Linked DNA regions of Homo sapiens. The protein of the gene in region 3 purifies or fractionates together with the protein of the main gene of each other region. This does not show direct contact. Each region holds a gene or a part of one and is shown on either strand. Other genes may lie near its edges. The genes, in order: SETX, PTPN5 and MEF2A.

Evidence for each region.
Region 1: the proteins of MEF2A (region 3) and SETX purify together in Homo sapiens (affinity purification with mass spectrometry; one large-scale study listed by BioGRID and IntAct). This does not show direct contact.
Region 2: the proteins of MEF2A (region 3) and PTPN5 purify together in Homo sapiens (affinity purification with mass spectrometry; one large-scale study listed by BioGRID and IntAct). This does not show direct contact.

What each region holds. Positions count from the first base shown.
Region 1 is NC_000009.12:132,323,883-132,327,534, forward strand, and holds part of SETX (probable helicase senataxin), read right to left. Parts: coding exon 2,442-3,652; intron 1-2,441. UniProt on the Homo sapiens protein: Probable RNA/DNA helicase involved in diverse aspects of RNA metabolism and genomic integrity.
Region 2 is NC_000011.10:18,739,682-18,743,333, forward strand, and holds part of PTPN5 (tyrosine-protein phosphatase non-receptor type 5), read right to left. Parts: coding exon 3,641-3,652; intron 3,395-3,640; coding exon 3,311-3,394; intron 2,823-3,310; coding exon 2,581-2,822; intron 2,207-2,580; exon of another isoform or gene 1,112-2,206; coding exon 922-1,111; exon of another isoform or gene 743-921; intron 1-742. UniProt on the Homo sapiens protein: May regulate the activity of several effector molecules involved in synaptic plasticity and neuronal cell survival, including MAPKs, Src family kinases and NMDA receptors.
Region 3 is NC_000015.10:99,673,905-99,677,556, reverse strand, and holds part of MEF2A (myocyte-specific enhancer factor 2A), read right to left. Parts: intron 3,165-3,652; coding exon 2,945-3,164; intron 2,159-2,944; coding exon 2,099-2,158; intron 1-2,098. UniProt on the Homo sapiens protein: Transcriptional activator which binds specifically to the MEF2 element, 5'-YTA[AT](4)TAR-3', found in numerous muscle-specific genes. Also involved in the activation of numerous growth factor- and stress-induced genes.

The DNA.
Region 1 (3,652 bases), on a different chromosome or scaffold from region 3:
ACAGGAGTGAGACCCTGTCTCCAAAAAAGAAAAAAAAAAGATAAAAATGGAAAGAAATTTCCAAAGGACTCATTAAGAATAGAAAATAGTTACTTGAGGGGATGAGGGGTGCCTGATGTTCTTTATAATGGGCCAGATAGAAATCTTTGACTATTTTAAACTCTGTATATGTACAAATGGAACTTGTGCTCATTCTGTTTTTAAAAAGCTGAGACTACAAAAATGTCCTGAAGGAAATAAATCTTAATAAATATCTTTTAACTCAGGAAATGAAAGTAAGTGTCTACCCTTCATAGGGTTATGAATGGCTTCTAAGCAATTTAGTGCTTTCCAGCGAAAATAAAGCAACTCCTGCTAAAACAAAAGTACCTTAGGAAAAAAAAATAATAAAGCAACTCTCAAAAATGGCTAAAATTTGAGGTACGAATTGATCAAAAGATTTAACATAAAGTACATTGATGAAGATACGTTCACTCAAGCTTTATAAAAGCCATTTATCTTGCCATGTACAGTGTTAACAACTCACTTCTCTTCTTTTGTAGTAGACTTGTCCCTTTGTACATTACACTTCCTTCCCCAACACTCCAATCTTGTTACCAGACTGTCTTTGCACTCCACTCTGCCTGTAACATACTTCCCACAGTTAACTCCTAGTCACTTGGGTCTCAGTGTAAATATCATCTGCTCATAGAGGTTATCTGATCTCTCCAGAAAGTGCCCTGTCCCCTTTGTTCTAGATCATACTAGAGTCCTTATCTCAATCCCAAATGGTCACTTCCAGAGAGCAGAGACCTCACACCTGTCTTGTTCACCACTTTATCTCCCATGCTTGTAAGAGCACTTGGCACATACTAGGCACTCAAATATCTATCAAGCTAATGAACCATGACTATTTACCTCAACATTGTTGGTTTTAAGAGTATTACTGTATACACGAAAGTTTCTTTTGAGGATTAACTAAAAATTTGCTCCCACTTCTTACCTGCCTTGAAAACACACACACAAAAATCCTTCTAAACGCAGTTGAATGCTTACACTAAAGAATTATTTGATGTTTTTCTCAAATTTTAACGGGAATCTTATCGTTTGTCAACTCTACTTGAGTAAGGAGGAGAGAAGAACCAGAATAGGATGTGCTGGGGTTGGGGAGGCTGTTACACAGAGCAGCTGCTGTGATGAGTAAGAAACTGGCGGCCAGACGCAGTGGCTCACGCCTGTAATCCCAGCACTTTGGGAGGCCAAGGCGGGCAGATCACAAGGTCAGGAGATTGAGACCATCCTGGCTAACATGGTGAAACCCCATCTCTACTAAAAATACAAAAAATTAGCCGGCCGTGGTGGCGAGAGCCTATAGTCTCAGCTACTCGGGAGGCTGAGGCAGGAGAACAGCCTGAACCCGGGAGGCAGAGCTTGCAGTGAGCCGAGATTGCACCACTGCACTCCAGCCTGGGCGACAGAGCGAGACTCGTCTCAAAAAAAAGAAAAAAGAAAAAAGAAAGAAAGAAACTGGGAAGTCTGACGTGTAGGGAAATTTAGGATTCATTACTTTGTGTTCAATGTAATTCACCCTTTGCCACCTCCTCAAGAAAACTACAGCAGAGGTCTCTTACTTAAAAACAAAACAAATGCACATGGGAAACTATCTCCTCTGAGAAGTCTTCCTTTACCCGTGCGTCAATAAACATTTCCTTCTGTGTTACCTCTGCACTTGGTATATTAGCACCCTGAGTTGTGTCTATCAGCTCCAAGGAGCAGAGTTTCCAGCCAGGCACAGTGGCTCATGCCCGTAATCCCAGCACTTTGGGAGGCCGAGGCTGGTGGATCACCTGAGGTCAGAATCAGAAGTTCAAGACCAGCCTGACCAACATGGTGAAACCCCTTCTCTACTAAAAATACAAAATTAGTGAGGCCTGGTGGCGCAGGCCTGTAATCTCAGCTACTTGGGAGGCTGAGGCAGGAGAATCACTTGAACCTGGGAGGCAGAAGGTTGCAGTGAGCAAAGATCGCACCATTGCACTCCAGCCTGGGCAGCAAGAGCAAAACTCCACCTAAAAAAAAAAAAAAAAAAAAGTGTTTCCTCTGTATTGCCAGTATCTAAAACAGTGGCTGGCACAAATGTCTGTTCAACATGAAATCTAAAACCAGTATCTAAATCGAAACGGTCAATTTTAATTTAACTATACTTTTTTTTGTTTTTTCTTTTGAGACAGAGTCTCACTCTGCCGCCCAGGTTGGAGTGCAGTGGCGCGACCTCGGCTCACTGCAACCTCCGCCTCCTGGGTTTAAGCAATTCTCTGCCTCAGCCTCCCGAGTAGCTGGGATTACAGGTGCCCGCAACCACGCCTGGCTGATTTTTTGAACTATACTCTCATTTTCACTCAGCAAGGTAAAGAGGTAACTTGAAAAGTTTGGAGAGGCATACAAATGAAACACATACTTACTGTTTCAAAAGTATTCAATACCATCAAAGGGAAAAAAACATTAAAATAATCTCCATAATTGTGAAATCTGACAGGCACAGGTCTTGAGATGGACTGACAAAGACTTGCAGGGGGCCCACACTGACCAAAGTTCAAAAACATTTCATATTTCCATTTTAAGACCTCTTTAACGAAGGTGTCAGAGACAGACTGTGATGACAAAAGAATGTTTACTGGAGAGGAAGATGGAAAATATTTGCTTTCACCAAATGGAACTTTGCAACCTTGCCTGTTGGAATTATTCGGAGACTGAGGATGAAGAACATTGCACGAATTCTTCATTTCACCAACTGGCTTCTGAGCTATGAGGGGAACTGGCTGTGGTACTTTCAAAATCGACTGTATCCCCTTTGACTTATTTTTTAGAGACGGTGAAAGTGCTGAAGAAGTTTCCAAAGATTTAGAAAGACCAGCAATTCGTGAAGTACTCTTTGAGCTAAAAATCTTAGTGGTAGGTCTCAAAGGTTTAGATGCAGGAGGAGGCAAGCCAGGTTTACGAAATACATCTTCATCTGCTGCTTTCACTTCAGAGTGTTTTGGGCAGTATTCACCCTGGTTTTTTGTGGTTTCAAGACAATCTTTGTACTTACACTTTGTGCCACTCAAAGATTCCAACTGAGGCCGACTTACAGAATCTTCTTCAACCTCAACTGTATCTTTTCCATGAATTAGTTCAATGAGTTTATAATTGTCATTCTCCATTTGTGAACATAAATCCATATCTTCAGGATCATTTTGGGTTAAAAATAAGTTATCTTCCTCTGCATCACTGCTGGAGTCAGGCTCTCCTTCTTTCAAAGCTGCCATCTCTATATGACGTGCTGTTGGATCACCTCCACCCAGAGGGTCTTCTGAAGTGGAGACAATTACTTCATTTGTTGGTACTGTTCCATTTAACACTACAGAATCACACTGGTTCAAAGGGCAAGCATCATCAGTTGCTGGAGACCCATGTTTTGCTTTTATGGTTTCTGGTTCAGAAGGCATGCATTTTATTAACTGTTTTCTGTTACTGTTGGCAAGTACCTCAGTTCCTCCTGTACAATTATAATCTGACCTATCAGATTCTGGTACAAATATGTCAGAATTCTGTGCTGTATGTGACCCTGCTCTTTTAACATCTGTACTTTCACAATCAGAAAGTCTTCGTCTATTTTTTTGTGATTTGGGTC
Region 2 (3,652 bases), on a different chromosome or scaffold from region 3:
CTTCTGTACCCCTGTGGCTTCTACCAGGAGGAACTCACCCCAGATACTCTTGGCCTCTTGCCTTTTCCTGCTCACAGAAGTGAGGAGTTACCTGTTTGGTGAATTTGGTTGAGGAATGGAGCTTTGGAGCCTCAGCCCCTTCCTTCCTCCTCCTCTCAGGGCCCTCCTGCCAGGAAAGAATTATAGGGGTGCCCCCATGCGGCAAGGTCCGAGATGTGCCGGCACCCCTGTGGAGGGTGGAAAGTGCATGTAATTCTGGGTCTCAGTATCGGGAGGCTCACTCTTGCTGTACCCTGCTAAGCCACATTTCCAACCTGTATTTTATTGACAACAAAGGTGATATTGTAATCTCCTATGCCTTAGCTCTTAACTGGCTGAGCACTCAGGCAGGTAAACAGGGGTGCCATTTATTGAGCCCCTCAAAGTCCAATAGGAGGCAGCTGGAGGCTGCTGCAGAAGCCAGGGTGGAGGTGATTAGGACCTAAGCTAGGGCCCCAGGGGTGGTAACGAGGGGAGGCCACTAGAGAGATTTCAAAGGCAGAAGAACAATGCTCGGCAGGAGGAAAGTGGGAAAACAGAAGAGTTAGAAGTGAAGGTTCTCTGTGGCTTTCAGAGCACAGCACTGGGCAATAAAGACTTAGCATTGTCACTGTACCTCCATCACCTGGCTGGGTGCTCTGCACATGTTATAAGTCTCTTTAATCTTTGCAACAATTCTATTATTTTCATCCCCATTTTCCAGATGAGGAAACTGAAGCTCAGAGGGAAAGCAGCTTGCCCAAGATGGTGGGAGAGCTGATAATAAAGTGATACTAATCTACTGCAGATGCTGAGTTCCAGGCACCACGCTCCACCACCTGGGCAGGTGGATGATTGACATGGGTCTGCACACAGTGGGGCGACCGGCTCAAGGGAACTCACAAAGAATTCCGCCTGCAGCAGGAAAGGGTCCAGGGCCTTTTCATGAAGCTCTTCTGCTTGGAGGACACGGGAGGCGCTGAGCAGGTACTCGCGGGCGGACTCCTCACGTGGGGACATGAGATAGCCAAAGCCCTCCTCGTTGCAGCCCGGAGTGCACATGTCCAGGGTCAGGGAGACATTGGAACCCCTCCTGGAAGGACCAGGAAAGGGAGTGTGAGCCTCAGGGGCAGAGGGACGGGCATGAGCTGGGGTCTCCAGGGCTGGGAAAATGAGGGAGGGAGAGATCAGCTGGGAACAGGGTGGGGTTGAGGAAGAGGAGTGGGAGTGTGACAAGACCCCCTGACAAAGAAGCGTGAATCTCAGCCCTGAGGCATTGGCCTGACTCCCTATCTCCTGCCTCCTGCAGTGGAGATGTTAACTTAGTGGGGATTTGGGGCTCCAGTTCTAAAAGTTCCATCCAAAGCTACCCCAACATGGCCTTACCCTGGACTCTCCTCCATCACCGTTGGAGGAAGTTCTACCCTGTGGTCCCCAGGAAGCTCAGAGAGGGGACACCTGCCTGAAGCACAGAAGCGGGGCTTGGGCCCGAGAGGATGGCTCCAGACCCTCCCCACTGCAGTCCCGGGCCCAACAGCCCTGGGATGAGGCTGCTGGTGAGTCAAGGACATATTGTCCAGGAGAGGCCAGGACCCCCGCTGTCAGGAAGGAGGGAGTCCCAGGAGCAGCACGGTGGCCGCAAGGATGTCTACAATGGGCAAACTCTACTATACTCAGAGTCTCAGACACAGGACAGGATGGGGCTTCATTACATAGAAAGAGAAACTGAGTCCCCATGAAGGGCCAAGAGTTGTCCAGGCTCTCCCAGTAAGGGGGTGGCAGAGCTGAAATAAAAAGCTAGGTTTCCTGACTCCACACCCAGTGTTCTTTCTGTGACATCACATGGGTAACTCAAATTTGGTGTGATCTGGCTCACCCACCTAGACTCTGAAACGAGGGTGTCTACACTTCTCAAAGTGTGCTCTGTGGAACACTATGAGCTACCCTATAAAAACAGGTTCTAATTGGGTACCCAGGTACATAAAGATGGCAACAATAGAAACTGGGGACTACTAGAGGAGGGAGGGAGAGAGGCGGGCAAGGGATGAAAAACTAACTGCTGGGCACTACGCTCAGTACCTGGGTGATGGGATCATTTGTACCCCAAACCTCGGCATTATGCAATATGCTCAGGTAACAACACTGCACATGCACCCCCTCAATCCAAAATAAAAGTAAAACAAAAAAATAGAGTTCCGTGGTCAAGTGACTTTGGGAAATGCCACATACTGCCCCCTTGCTGATTTACAATGAACATAAGCATGTTAAAGGCCCTGACAAGTCCTGCAGCAAAGAAAACCACCCAAACTTACTTGAGCATGGGAGAGTGTGTGTGAACATGTGTACACCTATGTGTGCGTGTGCAGTAACAGTATTTCTCAGCATTCATCTTGGGGCACTTTGATCTCTATGAATGACCTGGATAGCACATGTCTACACTGGCTAAGCTATAAGGCCAGCTCTGCCCTGGGCACCAGGAGTCAGAGTCAGGCATCCACTCTTCTGATCAGGAGCTAAGAGCTCAAGGGCCCGTGGAGCCCACCCCTCCTCCACCCCTCCCACCTCTCCTGCAGACCCATGGACTTGACGGTGAGTGAGGTGGGGTCAGCCTCAGGCTTGATGTCCATCACACAATCAAACACAGGAGTCTCGGGCACCGGGTCGAGGTCCAGGAAGTCATCCTCGATCTTCTCCTCCATCCACTCTGAGTAGGTGAAGGAGGGCTGGCGGCTCACTGACTGGCGCCTGTCCTCAGGGGGCAGTGGGGTGGGTGGCTCTGGGGGTGTCCTCAGGAGGTGCCACACCTGGTTGGGGTGTACAGCATCACAGATTTCGGACCACGCTGGCTGCCCCCCGTGTTCCTGGAGTGCCCATGGGATTGACGCCCCCCCACTCCCTCAGTGTGTCTAGAGCAGCTCTGCTCTCCTGGGAGTTGTCCACAAGGCACTGCCCCTGGCCTCGATGGGAGGCTCCATGCCCACTCTCCTTCCCTGCCCCTCCCTCTCCCAGCTCTCTGTTTCTTGTGGCTTCAGGCCTTCTCAGTGGGGCTTGGGAGTTCCTACACCAGTCTTCTCCCTGTCTCATCCCCTTTCCTTAGCCCAGATCACTGCAAACCAATTTTCGGAAAGAAGGAGGCTCTTGCCCCAGGCTGGCACACTTGTGCAAAGAGATAGGTATCCCTCCTTGCCCCACCCAGAATGTCCAGCCTATAAGTCAGATGGGAGCTGGTAGAAATCCAGGCCTCAAGGTCAGAGGAGGACAGCCTTGAGGTTGGGGTCAGGAGGCGCCTTACCAGGGTGGTAACGAGGACCAGGCCCACGGACAGAAAGACCAGCAGCAGACTGGGGACTCCCCACGTCCCAGAGTCAAGCCAGGCCTGGGGAACATCAGATAAACAGGTCAGGGTGGTGGTGGGGGCAGAGTTCTCAGCTCTTGCAATGATGACAAAACCAAGATTCTGAAAATCACGTCCCAGGTCTGGGATGGGGAGCAGGCAGAAGAACTTCAGGGGCTTGGAAGTATCTTCTGAACTCAGAGAAGCCCAATCTGGAGGTTGGGGAGGGTGGGACTAGAGGCCCCCAACAGATCCCTGCTACCCTAGGACTCCCCAAAGCTTACTTACCGTGGGTTCCAG
Region 3 (3,652 bases):
TAATTTTCCATCCCTTTGTGTCTCCAAAATTCTGGATAATTTTCTTCTATCTTATCTTTTAGTTTCTTAATTCTTGTATTTGCTTTGTCCAATCTGTTTTTAAGCCCATCTGTTAAGTTCTTAACATTACGGGGTTTTTTTGTTCTAAAATTTCCATTTTTTAAATAAATTTCAGTTCTCTGCTAAAATTCTCAATCTTTTTGTTTTTTAAATACCCTTGAACACAGTAAACACTGTTATATTAAAGTCAAAGTCTGTGCCTAGTAACTCCAAATTCTGGAGTTCCCAGGAGGCTGATTCCATTGTTTGTTTATTTCTGCAAGTTTTCATTTGCTTTATTTGTGTGTGTGCCTAGTTCAGCTTATGTGCCAAGTTAGAAATAATAAGGTCTGAGATGGTGTTTTATTTTATTTATTTATTTATTTATTTATTTTTGAGACAGCGTTTTGCTCTTGTCGCACAGGCTGGAGTGCAGTGGCATGATCTCGGCTCACTGCAACCTCCGCCTCCTGGGATCAAGTGATGCTCCTGCCTCAGCCTCCTGAGTAGCTGGGATTACAGGCACTTGCCACCACGTCCGGCTAATTTTTGTATTTTTAGTAGAGATGGGGTTTTGCCATGTGGGCCAGGCTTATTTTATTCTTCCAGAGACTATTTGCTTTTCCGGGCATTCTGGAACCCCTAAATCTAATTTCTAATCACTACGATCTAATTTTAACAAACTTTTGGGAGGTCAAGGCAGGCAGATCACCAGGTCGGGAGATTGAGACCATCCTGGCTAACACGGTGAAACTCCGTCTCTACTAAAAATACAAAAAAATTAGCCCGGCGTGGTGGCGGGCACCTGTAGTCCCAGCTACTCGGGAGGCTGAGGCAGAATGGCGTGAACCCGGGAGGTGAAGTTTGCAGTGAGCGGAGATGGCGCCACTGCACTCCAGCCTGGGCGACAAGAGCGAGACTCCGTCTCAAAAAAAAAAAAACAAAACTGTATGATGCATCTGTAAGATGTCACTACTGAGAAGAACTGTTTATCTCTGGTTTACTTTACTTCTAGAGTCCAGCCTTTTGGGGTGTCAACCCAATGTGAGAGAAGCATATTAGGCTCTCACAATTCTTGGTGGGCCCTGAACTTATTATTCTGTTGGGGGAATAAAAAAAAAAAGGGACACAAAAACAGTATGTAGGCATACAAACAACTAAAACAAGAGCTGAAAAAAAACCATAAATATTTGGAAATACACATACAAGAGTAGCAGCCCTAGTGTTTAACTGGTACAACCTTTATGTATTTTCCCACATTTAATTGTTTTCTGTTAAGTAAGACTCCACAATAGGTCTTATCTGTTTAATTCCATTAAAATATTTAATACTGTGGCAGATATAATTAGGCATTTATTCCTACTTTGTCATTAAATATTTTGTAACTTGTCTTAATAATATCTTTATTGATGTTTGTTTATTTCTTCCTCATCATTTTTATTAAGTCATTCAATCATCTCCATAATTTTTTTTTTTTTGAGAAGGAGTCTCACTCTATCGCCCAGGCTGGAGTGCAGTGATGCGATCTCAGCTCACTGCAACCACCGCCTCCCGGATTCAAGCAATTCTCCTCCCTCGGCCTCCCGAATAGCTGGGACTACAGGTGCACACTGCCACGCCCAGCTAAATTTTTTTGTATTTTAGTAGAGACAGGGTTTCACAGTGTTGCCCAGGCTGGTCACAAACTCTTCAGCTCAGGCAATCTGCCCACCTCGTCCTCCCAAAGTGCTGGGATTACAGGTGTGAGCCACGACGCCCGGCCAAGACAAATATGTTAATTATCTTTCTATCTGTAGAAGTAGATAGACCCACCATTTCTTTTCATTCTAGTCTCTCTGAAAACATTTCATGCTGTTGTAAGATAGAGTAGTTTGGTAACAGTCTAACTTTGGTAAGCAGGGAAGTTAGAGAAAGTCTCCCCTTAAGAAATTATCTTGATGTATTAGTGAAAGTACCCTTCAGAAGGAAATTTCCCAGAAAGCTTTATTTCAGGAACAACATTCCTTTGATCTCATATAGGATAGATACCTACAAAACAGAAGAGTAGGAATTCACTCACCCACTGGACTGCTTCCAGCTCCATTTGGCACTGTGAGGTCTGTAGTGCTCAACATCCCACCTAACAACGTTACGGAGAGAAGACAGAGGGCAGAGAATGAATATGAATTAGCTCTCTTTACCTAACTGAACGTGAACTGAATAGAGATAACTCTCACTCTAATCCTAAAAAGACACAAAAATAAAAACTAGCTCAGTCTGAAGTTGGCATTAACATGTAATCTGATGTAGTTATTATATCTCATATATATGAGTTTACCTTTCAAGCTTGATGTCGCCTTCAATACCAAATAGTGGTATTGCATCAATACCAAAATAGTACATACTGATAAAAACGGGGGCAGTGTGTAAGGAGTATGATTAAATCACTAAATTAAATCTAGGACTTAAGAGAGAGGAGACACTGCATTTCATAGACTAATACAATAAATGTAACATAAATTTTGCTGAATTAATGAAGTAATTCAGGCAGGAGGAGATGTAAAAGATACTCTAACTCCAATCAGGTAGTCTATCACCCATATTTCTAACATGAATGGCTCACACTCTACTTTAAATCCTTGCTTCTGATATCTAACTAAATTTTCTGCCTGTCAAAGTATGGCTTTCCCATGAGAAGGAAAGCATATAAATGGCAGGTTCTCAGTACTGTTCTACTTTGCATGACACAATGCTACACCCACAATTGATTTTCAAAAAAATACTTTAAAATGAGGCCAATTATGTATCAGTGATTCTTGCTCATCAAAGCAATAAAAGAATAGCAAAATAAGAAACTGCTTATGTTAGCAATGAATTTTTTCACCCTCTTTATTAAAGAACCAGCATAATAGGTATCACTACATACCTGCATTGCCAGTACTTGGTGGTCTCTGAGGAGCTCCAGGAGACACATTTCTATGTAATGTGGTTTGAGGTGGAGAGAGCATGCTTGAATCTGTTAACGTTGAGCTGGCTGCCAAAGATGGGGACACCAGTGAACTCCCTGGGTTAGTGTAGGACAAAGCATTGGGGCTGGTCACTGGAACTGTGACAGACATTGAAAAGTTCTGAGGTGGCAGACCAGGCTGTAAATAAAGAAAAAGAAGGAAAAAACTGTTGGTTTCGTATTCATCTACAAAGTAACTTTTGAACTTTAATTTGGCAAGGTAACTCAAGTTACTAAAAGTAGAGGATAGGGATAGGTTCTTAACCAATTTACAGATTAAAGCTATTTTCTTTAGAATTATGTTTGAACATGAATATGACTGACATGAGCCTTTTCAATTTCAACTTTATACATTAATATATACTAATGTCTATATTCTATATTTCAAATATTCATAAAGACAAATTTAAGAGGATAAACCTGATAATCAAGTAGTGTTGTCATATTTAGACATTACAAAATATATCACTGTCACCAAGTAAGCATAAATTGGCACTTCAATGTAAACCTTAATAACATTACATTTCTACTGAGAGATCCCAAATATAACGGAAGGAGAAAAGTGTGTACACATATTATTAACTTAATATGTCAAATCTGATAAATCATAAATATTCCCCATTCTGA